Regions from separate parts of the Homo sapiens genome. Here region 1 is linked to region 2. Evidence: fine-mapped expression QTL. A gene starts in region 2. The other region holds a variant in brackets. All regions are shown on one strand. Distances are from middle to middle.

The links. PIP is the estimated chance that this variant, and not a neighbour inherited with it, causes the effect. A credible set is the group of variants that fine-mapping cannot tell apart.
Region 1: its variant is the best candidate, but not a certain one, in a credible set for the expression of TFDP1 in whole blood (INTERVAL, PIP 0.52).

Annotation. Positions count from the first base shown.
Region 1 is chr13:113,767,518-113,772,890 of GRCh38, forward strand. It overlaps TMEM255B (transmembrane protein 255B), which reads left to right. Exons shown (of 9, transcript NM_182614.4): 3 at 1,581-1,643. Among named protein-coding and RNA genes, the nearest start is that of TMEM255B, 11 kb to the left of the region's middle. The variant C/A (reference allele first, on the strand shown) is at 2,683.
Region 2 is chr13:113,582,583-113,587,955 of GRCh38, forward strand. TFDP1 (transcription factor Dp-1) reads left to right here and starts at 2,171. Exons shown (of 12, transcript NM_007111.5): 1 at 2,171-2,306; 2 at 3,192-3,267. The coding sequence starts at 3,256. RefSeq lists enhancers at 20-993, 994-1,965, 3,943-4,543 and silencers at 1,934-2,263, 2,634-3,003.

The DNA of each region.
Region 1 (5,373 bases), 180 kb after region 2:
TTTAAGAGCTGCCTCAGAATAACATAATGAAAAACATCAATGGCTAATGCCCAAGCTATGCTCTGTAAAGAATCTACCTTCTGGGCAATGAATTAATGCTGTGCTGACCAGATTGAAATGGCCTGTAGTACAGACAGTTCTGAAAGCAAACTAGGGAGACAACAAATAAAAGCAGCTTCAAGGAAACGTGGCTAAGAGTCACTTCTGTGGAGACTTTCTGCCAATGTAGAGACTTAAGAAGCTGATCTCAGAAGAAGCGGCCAGAACGTGAAAACATCTCCACATTTTCAAGAAAGGTGTGGTTTTTTTCAAATCCCCAAAAAATAAAACGTAGTGTAACAGATGTATTTTAATACATGTATATCGAAGTGAAATTTTGATATTTTTGACGTGTGGAGTTGAACTGCAGTATTTTGAAGCTCAGCACATGAAGAAATATTCCTGTTATCCCTGGAGAATTCTCAAACCGTTGGTGAAAGCCACATGTGTACGTGTCTATCACCACAGACACACAGACAATTACAGAAAAGGCAAAACTATTTACATAAAGAAGTCCGGTTTCCAGTGCATTAAACTTGACACCACGGCCCCAGCAACTCCAAGGCTGTGCCGGGCGGGCCACCCCTTCCAACAGACACTCACTGGGAAGTGCGACCGGCCCGGCGCACCTGCGTGGGAGCAAGAGCCGTCTTAGGCCTCGGCACGGTCGTTGGCAGGTCCATGTTGGCTGCTCTGAGCCAGATTTTCGGTGGGTGTTGCTGAAATGCATGTTCTTCACACTGATTTTAAAAATTCCTCTGCCAGGTGGGCGTCACCTGCCAGGACGGGCCCTGGGTGGAGGGTGCGGATGCCCGGCCGGTGGCCTCTGTTCTAAGACAGCACAGTCCCATGTCTATTTCCCGACATCCCAGTATCATTTTCTGCCCAGAGCTGGGGCTTCCTGTGGAGTAAGGGGGCTCTGCCGGACCCCTGGTGGCCTGTGCTGCAGCCCGGGGCCCCCTCTGTGCCTGGCCCAGGTGCCCCCTCTGTGCCTGGCTCAGGTGCCCTTTCCCCACACCTGGCACCTCCCTGCTAACGGTCTGCCCTGCTCACTCTCCCGAAGCAGCAACCAGAGTTAGGCCGTCTGAGCAGGGGTCACTGGTGGCCCTTGTGCCTGGCAACCCTTCTTTTGAAACACGGCTGTAGTTCCCTAATACCTTACCCAGGAGCCATGCTCAGGGGCATCTCAGGCCTGGAGAAGACGGGACAGATGGTGGTGCTTGGTGGCCCTGGGTTCCCGAAAAGATGTTGTCTCTGGGGGAGGAGTGGGAACTTCTCTTACCCCAGAGTCACAAGCCAAACAGATGCATCATTAAAAACCTCTGAGCAGAGAAGACAGGACAGGTGATGTTGCAGAGATGCCTGCCCAACGCCAGCAGACGCACCTGCTGCTCAGTGGTTGAGGTTCTTGAGGTAGGGATGTCTGGCCTTCGTCCCTGGATAAAATGCCTTTGAGGGCGGGATTATTTGCTTTAAATGTCAGTGTTAAGCTTCTAGGCACGTTAATGAGTGTTTCTCTCTCGTTCTTCCTTTGGTTTTAGCTCGGCTTTGGATCTTTCTTAGGAATTATTGGCATCAACTTGGTGGAGAATAGAAGGCAAATGGTAAGAAAGTACATGGGGTGGTGGGGAGCATGAGTCCCTCATCAGGGGATGGTACAGCTGCACTGGGGCTCTGAGAAGAGTCAGCCCTGCCTCCCCAGCACACTGGTGTCTACAGGACCAGCTCTGAGGTTCCCGGGCTGTGGCCTGCACAGTCCTGGATACAGGGTTCAGCGAGTACCATTCACACCTTAGTCTAAGCGAGCATGGCCCTGGGTTGCTGGTGTATCAACCTCACGTGGTGTGCAACCACCAATGCTGAGGCCTGGGAAGCTCAGAGAATGCATGAAGTTTGGGACGGGGGTGGCAAATTAAATTAAGTCCTAGTGTGTAAAGTTCAGGCAAAAACATGTGCATAAGCCTCTCTTCCTTTTGAACCAGTGGCTCTAGAGTCTTGTTTTTCGTCTGAGTTTGGTTAATGTTTATCTTGCCCAGACTAAGAGGAGAGGTAAAGACATAAAACCAGGAGGGAGCCCCCGGTTCACATGGCAGCAATGCAGAGTGAAATCCAGACACTGCCTGTCCATGATGTTCGTGGCTGTATGCGCGGCAACAGCGATCAGGTTCAGCTGGAAGTCTGTTTTGTTGATGCACTGTTTTGGGGACTATAACTTTAAAAACAAAAACTGGCTAATTTTGTCAGTTCACGGTGGCAGCCAGGATTGAATTTTAAGAGCAGGGTTTAGAGGGGAGGTGGTTGGGCCATTTCTGCCTCATCTCCCAGTTGTTGCTTCAGAGCAGGCTGGAGTTCTCAGCTCTTCCCTGCACCGGCTGTCATGTTACTGTATCATCCAGCGTGCAAATGACCTGTGTCGGGCCCCCAACCCCTGCCTGTTCCCAGTTCCCAGGCCGAGAGGGAGGGTGAGATGGCTGGGCCGCGGTGTATGCCCTCGGAACCCTGTATGTTAGTCTGTTTTCACACTGCTGATAAAGACGTACCCAAGACTGGGCAGTTTACAAAAGAAAGAGGTTTAATTGAACTCACAGTTCCACGTGGCTGGGGAAGCCTCACGATCACGGCGGAAGGTAAGGAGGAGCAAGT[C/A]CTGTCTTACGTGGATGGCAGCAGGCAAAGACAGAGCCTGTGCAGGGAAACTCCCCCTTGTAATAACCATCAGATCTTGTGAGACTTACTCACTATCATGAGAACAGCACAGGAAAGATCTGCCCCCCATGATTCAACTGCCTTCCACCAGGTCCCTCCCACAACACATGAGGATCCAAGATGAGATTTGGGTGAGGACACAGCCAAACCATATCACCCCGCATGGGACCCAGCAAACTCCCACTGCTGCCCAGGAGACTGACCCTTGGGCAGATGGAGCCTGACCGTGTGAGGGTGGGAGGTCCCTGGAGGGTTGGGGGTGGCTGCAAAGACACTGGGATTCTGGTGGAGCAAAGCGTTCTGTTCTGCATAGTAGAGACAGTGTGCACTGCAGGGTGAGCTGCCGTTCTTGGCTAGCAGTTGCAAAGAGACGGAGAGATAGGCCCGGCATTTCCTCTCCCACCCACCCCCTGTTGTTGGCTCCCGAGGGTGGGCGTCACAGCTGACCAGGGTGGGCAAAGGCCTCACACACACCAGTCACAGAATGGTGTTGGAAACAGACGCCACCTTTGGGAGCCAGCATGCCCCCATGATGGTCTCTAGACAGCATCTCTTCAGAGTCTGGAGCTGCTTGGTGCCTGTAGGGAGTTGGGTGGGCCTGAGGAGGGAAGGCCTCCTGAAGACTTTTCCATAAGATTTCCCCAAAGAGGCAGAAGCTGGGTGTGAAGCTGGGCTTTGGCGATGCACAGGATGGGTGGACAGTGTGGGTCTGTTTTTCTTTCCTTTTAAAAAAATGGCTTTAATGAGATATAGTCCACATTCCATATAACTCACCCATTTAAAGCACACAATTCAATGGTTTTTAGTGTATTCCCAGATATGTGAACCATCAGCACAGCCAGTGTTAAAACATGAATCACATCAGCAAGAAACCCACACCCTTCTCTTAGCACCCTACCTACCCAGCCTAAGCAACCAGGAATCAACTTCCTGTCTCTGTAGATTCCTACTCTGGGCCTGCCTGCGGAGGGAGTAATGTGTGATATGTGTTCTCTGTAGATTCCTACTCTGGGCTTGTGTGTGGAGGCAGTAACGTGTTATGTGCGGTCTCTGTGTCTGGTGTCTGGCACTGCGCATGGTGTCTTTAAGCTTCCTCCAAATTTCCTTGCTTTCTATGGCTGAATAATAATCCACTATATGGGCCGGACACGGTGGCTCATGCCTGTAATCCTAGCACTTTGGGAGGCCAAGGTGGGCGGATCACGAGTTCAGGAGTTCAAGACCAGCCTGACCAACATGGTGAAATCCTGTCTGTACTAAAAATACAAAATTAGCTGGGCATGGTGGCACATGCCTATAATCCCAGCTACTCAGGAGGCTGAGGCAGGAGAATCACTTGAACCTGGGAGGCAGAGGTTGCGGTGAGCCGAGATTGAGCCATTGCACTCCAGCCTGGGTGACTGAGCAAGACTCTGTCTCAAATAATAATAATAACAATGATAATAATAATAATAATCCACTGTATGGATGGGCCACACTTATCCATACACCAGTTGATGGACATTACAGCTGTTTACAGACTTTGGCTGTTGTGAATAATGCTGCTGTGAACATTTGTACATAGGTTTCTGTGTGAAAATGCATTTACATTTCTTTTGGGCATGTACCTAGGAGTGGAATTGCTGGGTCATACAGTAATGCTGTTTAATCATTTGAGGAACTGCCAGACTGTTTTCCAAAGTGGCTGCCCCATGTTACATTCCCACAGACAGGCATGAGGGCTCCTGTTTCTCCACTCCCTCACCAGCACTTGTCACTGACTGTTTGATTCTAGCCATCTAATGTGTGATAAGTGGTATCTCATTGTGGTTTTGATTGCATTTCCCTGATGATTAGTGATGTCGAGCATCTCTTCATGTGCCTATTGGCCGTTTGCATATGTTCTTGGAGAAATGTCTGTTCATTTCCTTTGCTCATTTTTACATTGGGCTGCCTTTTCCTGTTGAGTCATCAGAGTCATTTATGTATTCTAGATACAAATCGCTTCTCAGATATGTGATTTGCAAATATTTCCTCACATTCTGTACATTGCCGTTTCACTTTCTTAATGGTGTCCTTTGAGGCACAAAAGTTTTTAATTTTGATGAACTCTAATTTATTTTTTCTTTTGTTGTTCATGCTTTTGGTGTCATATCTAAGAATGTTTTACAAATCTAAGGACATGAAGATTTACCCCTAGATTTTTCTAGAAGAGTTTTGTAGTTTTAACTCTTCCATCTGGGTCTGTGATCCACTTTGAGTTAACTTTTGCGTATGGTATGAGGTAGGAGTTATTATAGTTTTAACTCTTCCATCTGGTTCTGTGATCCACCTTGAGTTAACTTTCTTCATGGTGTGAGGTAGGGACCCATGTTCATGCATTTACGGACATCCAGTTGTCCAAGCACCATTTGCTGAAAAGACTGTTCTTTTCTCATTGAATGGTCTTGGCACCCTTGTTGAAAATTAATTGGCCATACATATATGGTTTATTTGTGGACTTTTAATTCTATTCTTTTAATCTATATGTCTTTGCTTGTGCCGGTACCACAGTCTTGATTACTGTAGCTTTAGAGTGAGTTTGAAATAAGGGCTTGTGAGTCTTCCAGCCTTGTTCTTTTTCAGGATTACGTTGGCAATTCTGAATCCCTT
Region 2 (5,373 bases):
GGTCTCAGGGAGAAGTCCCCAGAGGCTGGGAGGGTGTCACTGTTGCCATCAGGGCTCAAATACTGACATTTAGGAACACATAAAGAATCCCTGTGAAACAGAAGGAACGGACCTAGGAAGATAGGGCCATTTGAGGAACATCAGTGTTCTCTAAGTATCTATTTGTGTGAACCAGCTCGCAGAAAGTGAGCGTTTCTGGTAGTCTTCAAAGAAGAAACGGGTGCTAACTTGTAAGCAGTTTAAGCCAAGTGACCAGAGCTTTAGGGGGTGCGGCGTTGCCTGAGGGGCAGGAGTGGCCAAAATCAGCATAAAACGTGCAAAGTGGGCTGTCATGTAATAATACACCGCACAGGCAGAGAGGCCTTTGGTCAGCTCCTCAAGTCCTCTGTAGATGTTCCTTACCCTCGGCGCGCACCAGCCTCTGCCGCCTGCTGTGGCCCTGAACTTCGGACTCTTCTCTGGCCTAGCCCGCCCTTGGCTGGGGTGCTCGGGCCTGGCCCTAGCGGCGGGGCCCTCCAGGGTGGATTAAGTCTCCAAGACTCCGGGACCACCAGGCTCACCATGCAATGAAACTGTTTCTGGAGTTTTCCTGTCCCTGCTTTCCCTCCCGAGTCCCGGGCCAGGCTGCGTCCGGTGGGCACCGAGGACGCCCAGAATTGTTGGGAATCTGGGCGGAGGCCCGTCGTGGGCTTGGAGGCCACCGGGTCCAGCAGAGGCAGAGGCCTCTGTGCCACGCACGCACACACACCTGCTCTCCTCCGTGTGTCCACATACACACGTCTATGCACACACCTGCTCTCCATACATGCACAGCCCCACACACAGTCGGCCCTTTATGTGCACACACACTCGTGCACACAAGCGGCCCCCTCTCCTCCGTGCATACAGGCGCACACACAGCTGGCTCTCCTCTTTGAGCACACACACTCAAGCACACACCCGGCCCCGCTCTTCCAAGTGCACACACACTCCTGCACACACTAGTCCCTGCTCCCCCCCCCACACTCGCGCACACAGCCGGCACTCTCTGCTCCCTGCACACAAACACACATCCTGACATACCCGGCCCCCTACCTGCTGCCCCATGTGCACACACACTAGTGCACACACCAGTCCCCGCTCCCTCACATGCACACACACTAGTGCACACACCAGTCCCCGCTCCCTCACATGCACACACACTAGTGCACACACCAGTCCCCGCTCCCTCACATGCACACACACGAGTGCACACACCAGTCCCCGCTCCCTCACATGCACACACTAGTGCACACACCAGTCCCCGCTCCCTCACATGCACACACTAGTGCACACACCAGTCCCCGCTCCCTCACATGCACACACTAGTGCACACACCAGTCCCCGCTCCCTCACATGCACACACACGAGTGCACACACCAGTCCCCGCTCCCTCACATGCACACACACGAGTGCACACACCAGTCCCCGCTCCCTCACATGCACACACACGAGTGCACACACCAGTCCCCGCTCCCTCACATGCACACACACGAGTGCACACACCAGTCCCCGCTCCCTCACATGCACACACACGAGTGCACACACCAGTCCCCGCTCCCTCACATGCACACACACTAGTGCACACACCAGTCCCCGCTCCCTCACGTGCACATGCACTAGTGCACACACTAGTCCCTGCTCCCCCACGTGCACACACACTCTTGCACACAGCCGGCCCCGCTCCCCCACGTGCACACACCAGCTCCCGCTCCCCCACATGCACACACACTCGTGCACATAGCCGGCCCCGCTCCCCCATGTGCACACACACTCTTGCACACAGCCGGCCACCTCTCTCTCCGGACACACACAGTCAGAGGCGCGCACAAACACAGTCCCTTGGCCGCCGAGCGCACGCCGCGCGCGCGCACTGCCCGTCCCGGCGCAGGCCCCAGCTACATCTCCGCACGCGCACGCGCACACACGGACACGCGCGCACAGCCCCTCCCCGCTCTCCCAGGGCGCGCAGCACTGGCGGGAGGAGCGGGAGACCGAGGAGCAGCAGAAGAGGAGGAGGAGGGCGCCGAAGGCGCGAAAAGGCGCGCAGGCGCGCTGCGCGGAGCGGGCCCGCCGCCGCCCACGTCACCGCGCCGCGCGCACGTCACGCCGGCCCGACGCTCGGCCAGGGTGAGCCCCGCGTCCCGGCGCCACTCGGCCCAGGGCAGGGACCCCGCCACGGCCGGGACCGCCCGGCCCGGCCCCAGCCCGCGCCTCTCCGCGCCGCCCCGCGCTCCGCACCGCGCCCTCTCCGCGTCCCCGCCCGCGCGGCCGGACCGGGCAGCCAGGTGCGGGTGGGCAGGGGATGCCGCGGGAGCCGCGGGCGGGAGCCGGGGGTGCGGGCGGGACCCCCGGCCACCCCATCCCTTGCCCCGGCCGCGTGTAGGCGCCGCGCGGCCCCGACCCGCGCCCTCCCGCGCCCTGCGCGCTCCTGTGCCTCGGGGACCCCGCGCGCTCGGCGCTGGTAGGGGCTCCCCAGGTGACCGCGGGGCGGGGGTCCCGGGCCCGGCCCTCCCGGCCGACAGCAGCGTCCGCGCCCCACGCTGGAGGTGGGGCCGGGGCCGGGGCCGGGGCTGGGGCCAGGGTCGGCCGGAGCGCGCAGGGCGGGGGAGGGGAGGCCGCCCCACGGCGGCCCGCGGGGACCCGGTTCCGGCGCGCGCGGGAGGCGCCTCGTGCGGAGGCGGCCCGAGGCCTAGTGACAGGCGCGCGGCGCGGACCCCGGAAGCCCACCTGTCAGAGTTACCGGTCAGCCGGGCGGGCGCCGCCGGGGTCTGGGGTGGACGCCGCGAGCCTGCACGTTGCGCCGGGACCCCGGGGCTGTGCCCAGGTGGGTGGTGGGGCACCCCCCTGCAGCGGCGGGAGGGAGGCGCTGCGCCCTGGCTCCTGGGGCTCGGCCCCACCCTCGGCCGCTGGGCGGGCCGTCGGGGACCTGGGGGTAGTGGTGGTGACCCTGCGGGCCCGCGGGCCACTTTTCCGCAGGGGGCATTTCCGTCTGGCGAGGCGACTGAAAATCCTGAGTGTGGGAGTCGGTTTGGCCAGCTCCGCTCTCAGGATGGAGGGTGCCTTTGGGAAGGAAGGTCCGCGTTTCCTTTGAGATGTGTTATTTTTTAAACTTCGTTTTTCATTCTTACTTATTTCTTGTTTTTCCTTACTTTTTTTTTTTTTTTTACCAGAAAAATCATTTTTCTTCTCTGGGAAGGTGAACATTTGTAGCATTGATTTCCCGGATCTGGTAACATGGCAAAAGATGTAAGTATGTTTGCTTCATGCTGCACACGAATGTTTGCCTCGCACTAAATTCTTTGTAGTTCTCTGCCTTTATTTCAGAATGACAACACATAAGCTACAGTAGTGTTTATTTTCAGACTTTTAAAGCGTCTGAAGCGGGATGAAGGTGAAAGATGGAAGGATCTGATCTCTGAAGCTGCGGTCACCACCCACAAGTTGTGGCCTTGGATACCACACTGCAGTTGGGTGGTGATGGGGTGGTGCCTTCTGACTTTTTCCTTATCTTTACCGACTGTGTTAATTGATAATTTTAAATAAACGCCTTAATTAAATTGAGGTGGAGGGTGTTGCAGCACCGCAGCGAATCCTGCATTTCTTGGGGGGCTTCCACATGAGACGCTGGACGGGGGCCAGGCTCAGGGCTCAGGCTGTAGCCACCTGCTGGCACCTGTCTTCCTACAGAGGAAGTTAATTCCACTTGGGTGGACCAAGAGCTAAGGACTTGTTTTGGCCACTTTTTTTCTCAGAAGGATGAGATTTCCTGATTTATGAAATCTGGTAAAAAATGCTACTTAGCCTGCTTTGCAGTTGTCATGAAACTATAGAATATTTTGAAAATTTTTTAAAGCCAGAAATTTAGTCTATTTTATTGGTGTGCGGTTCTTTACCGTGCTTGGTTATGTCAGTCACTGAAACACCAGCTGGATTCTTTAGTGTTTCCCACCGTGCATCGTTTTGTAACTGAGTGAAAGGTGCTGTTGATGTGTTTACCTACTTACCGCACAGAGTTGGAAAGAGTCCGCACATGCTGCCTCTGCCTGAGATACATCTGTAGCGAAAATGCGTCCAGAGTGTGGAGCCCTCTCCGTTGGCGCAGAGGTTTCAGTGGTCCCTGCGAGGCCTTTTGGGGTGTCTGCCCTCCCTGACCTGCGACCAGGCATGTCACACGGCATCCCTGCCTTCAAGCACTGGGGTCCCCTTTAGAGAGGGTGTGTGAGCACCCAGGTGGACCCAGTGTGAGTTTTTGAAGTCATATCTGGCTGTGCTGCGAGACTACTTTTATCCTCTCCACTGTGCTTGTCCGTACCATGCCCTGACCTCGTGCGGGCATGCACTCAGAATGCCAGATGTGGGCATGTGCTCAGCGCGCAAGCCATGTTCATTACATCTCCTCATGGTGAGGAGCTGGACCCAGGGCCTCGGTTAGAGCACGCTTCTGGTGTTGTGTGGTTTCCTGTGTGGTTTCCTCAGATGGTTCTCAAACACGCTTTGATACATAATGGATGGTGTTTTCGGGGCCCTCTTTCATTCCCCCGTGATTTCACTGGCACTGTCTGTGAGCAGCATGTAGTGTGAGGCTGGGGGTGGGGGGCGTGTGGAAAGGTGGTCCGGCTCTGCAGGACCCTGAATGCTCCATCCAGTGTGGGCACCTGAGACGCAGCATTTGTCAGGAACTGCATAGGCACAGGGGCTGGGGGCTCACCTTGCACTCAGGGGTTGTGATCTGAGTTGGGGGTTGGCGCTGGGAGGAGAGTAGGATTCTGCAGCTGGTGAGGCCTTCCCTGCTCAAAGCCTGGGAGTGGTCAGGAGTGCTGGGTCTGGATGGAAAGTGAGGTTGTGAACAAGTCAAGGAATTTGATGTTTTCGCTAGCTCTTTTTTTTTTTTTTTTTTTTGAGACAGAGTCTCACTCTGTCTCCCAAGCTGGAGTGCAGTGACGCGATCTTGGCTCACTGCAACCTCTGTCTCCTGGGTTTAAGCAATCCTCTCGCCTCAGCCTCCCGAGAAGCTAGGATTACAGGCATGTGCCACCATGCCTGGCAAATTTTTTTGTATTTTTAGTAGAGATGGGGTTTCACCATGTTGCCCAGGCTGGGCTCGAGCTCCTGACCTCAACAATCCACCCGCCTTACAGGCGTGAGCCACCGCGCCCGGCCTAGCTAACTCTTTTAAGTAGAGGTGTGACATTTGAGTTTTGAAAAGATGATGTTGGCAGCTTTTGCAGAAGGGAACATCGATAACCAGTTAGGTGTTTTGTTTTTGTTTTTTGAGACGGAGTTTTGCTTGTTGCCCAGGCTAGAGTGCAATGGCGCGACCTCAGCTCACTGTGACCTTGGCCTCCTGGGTTC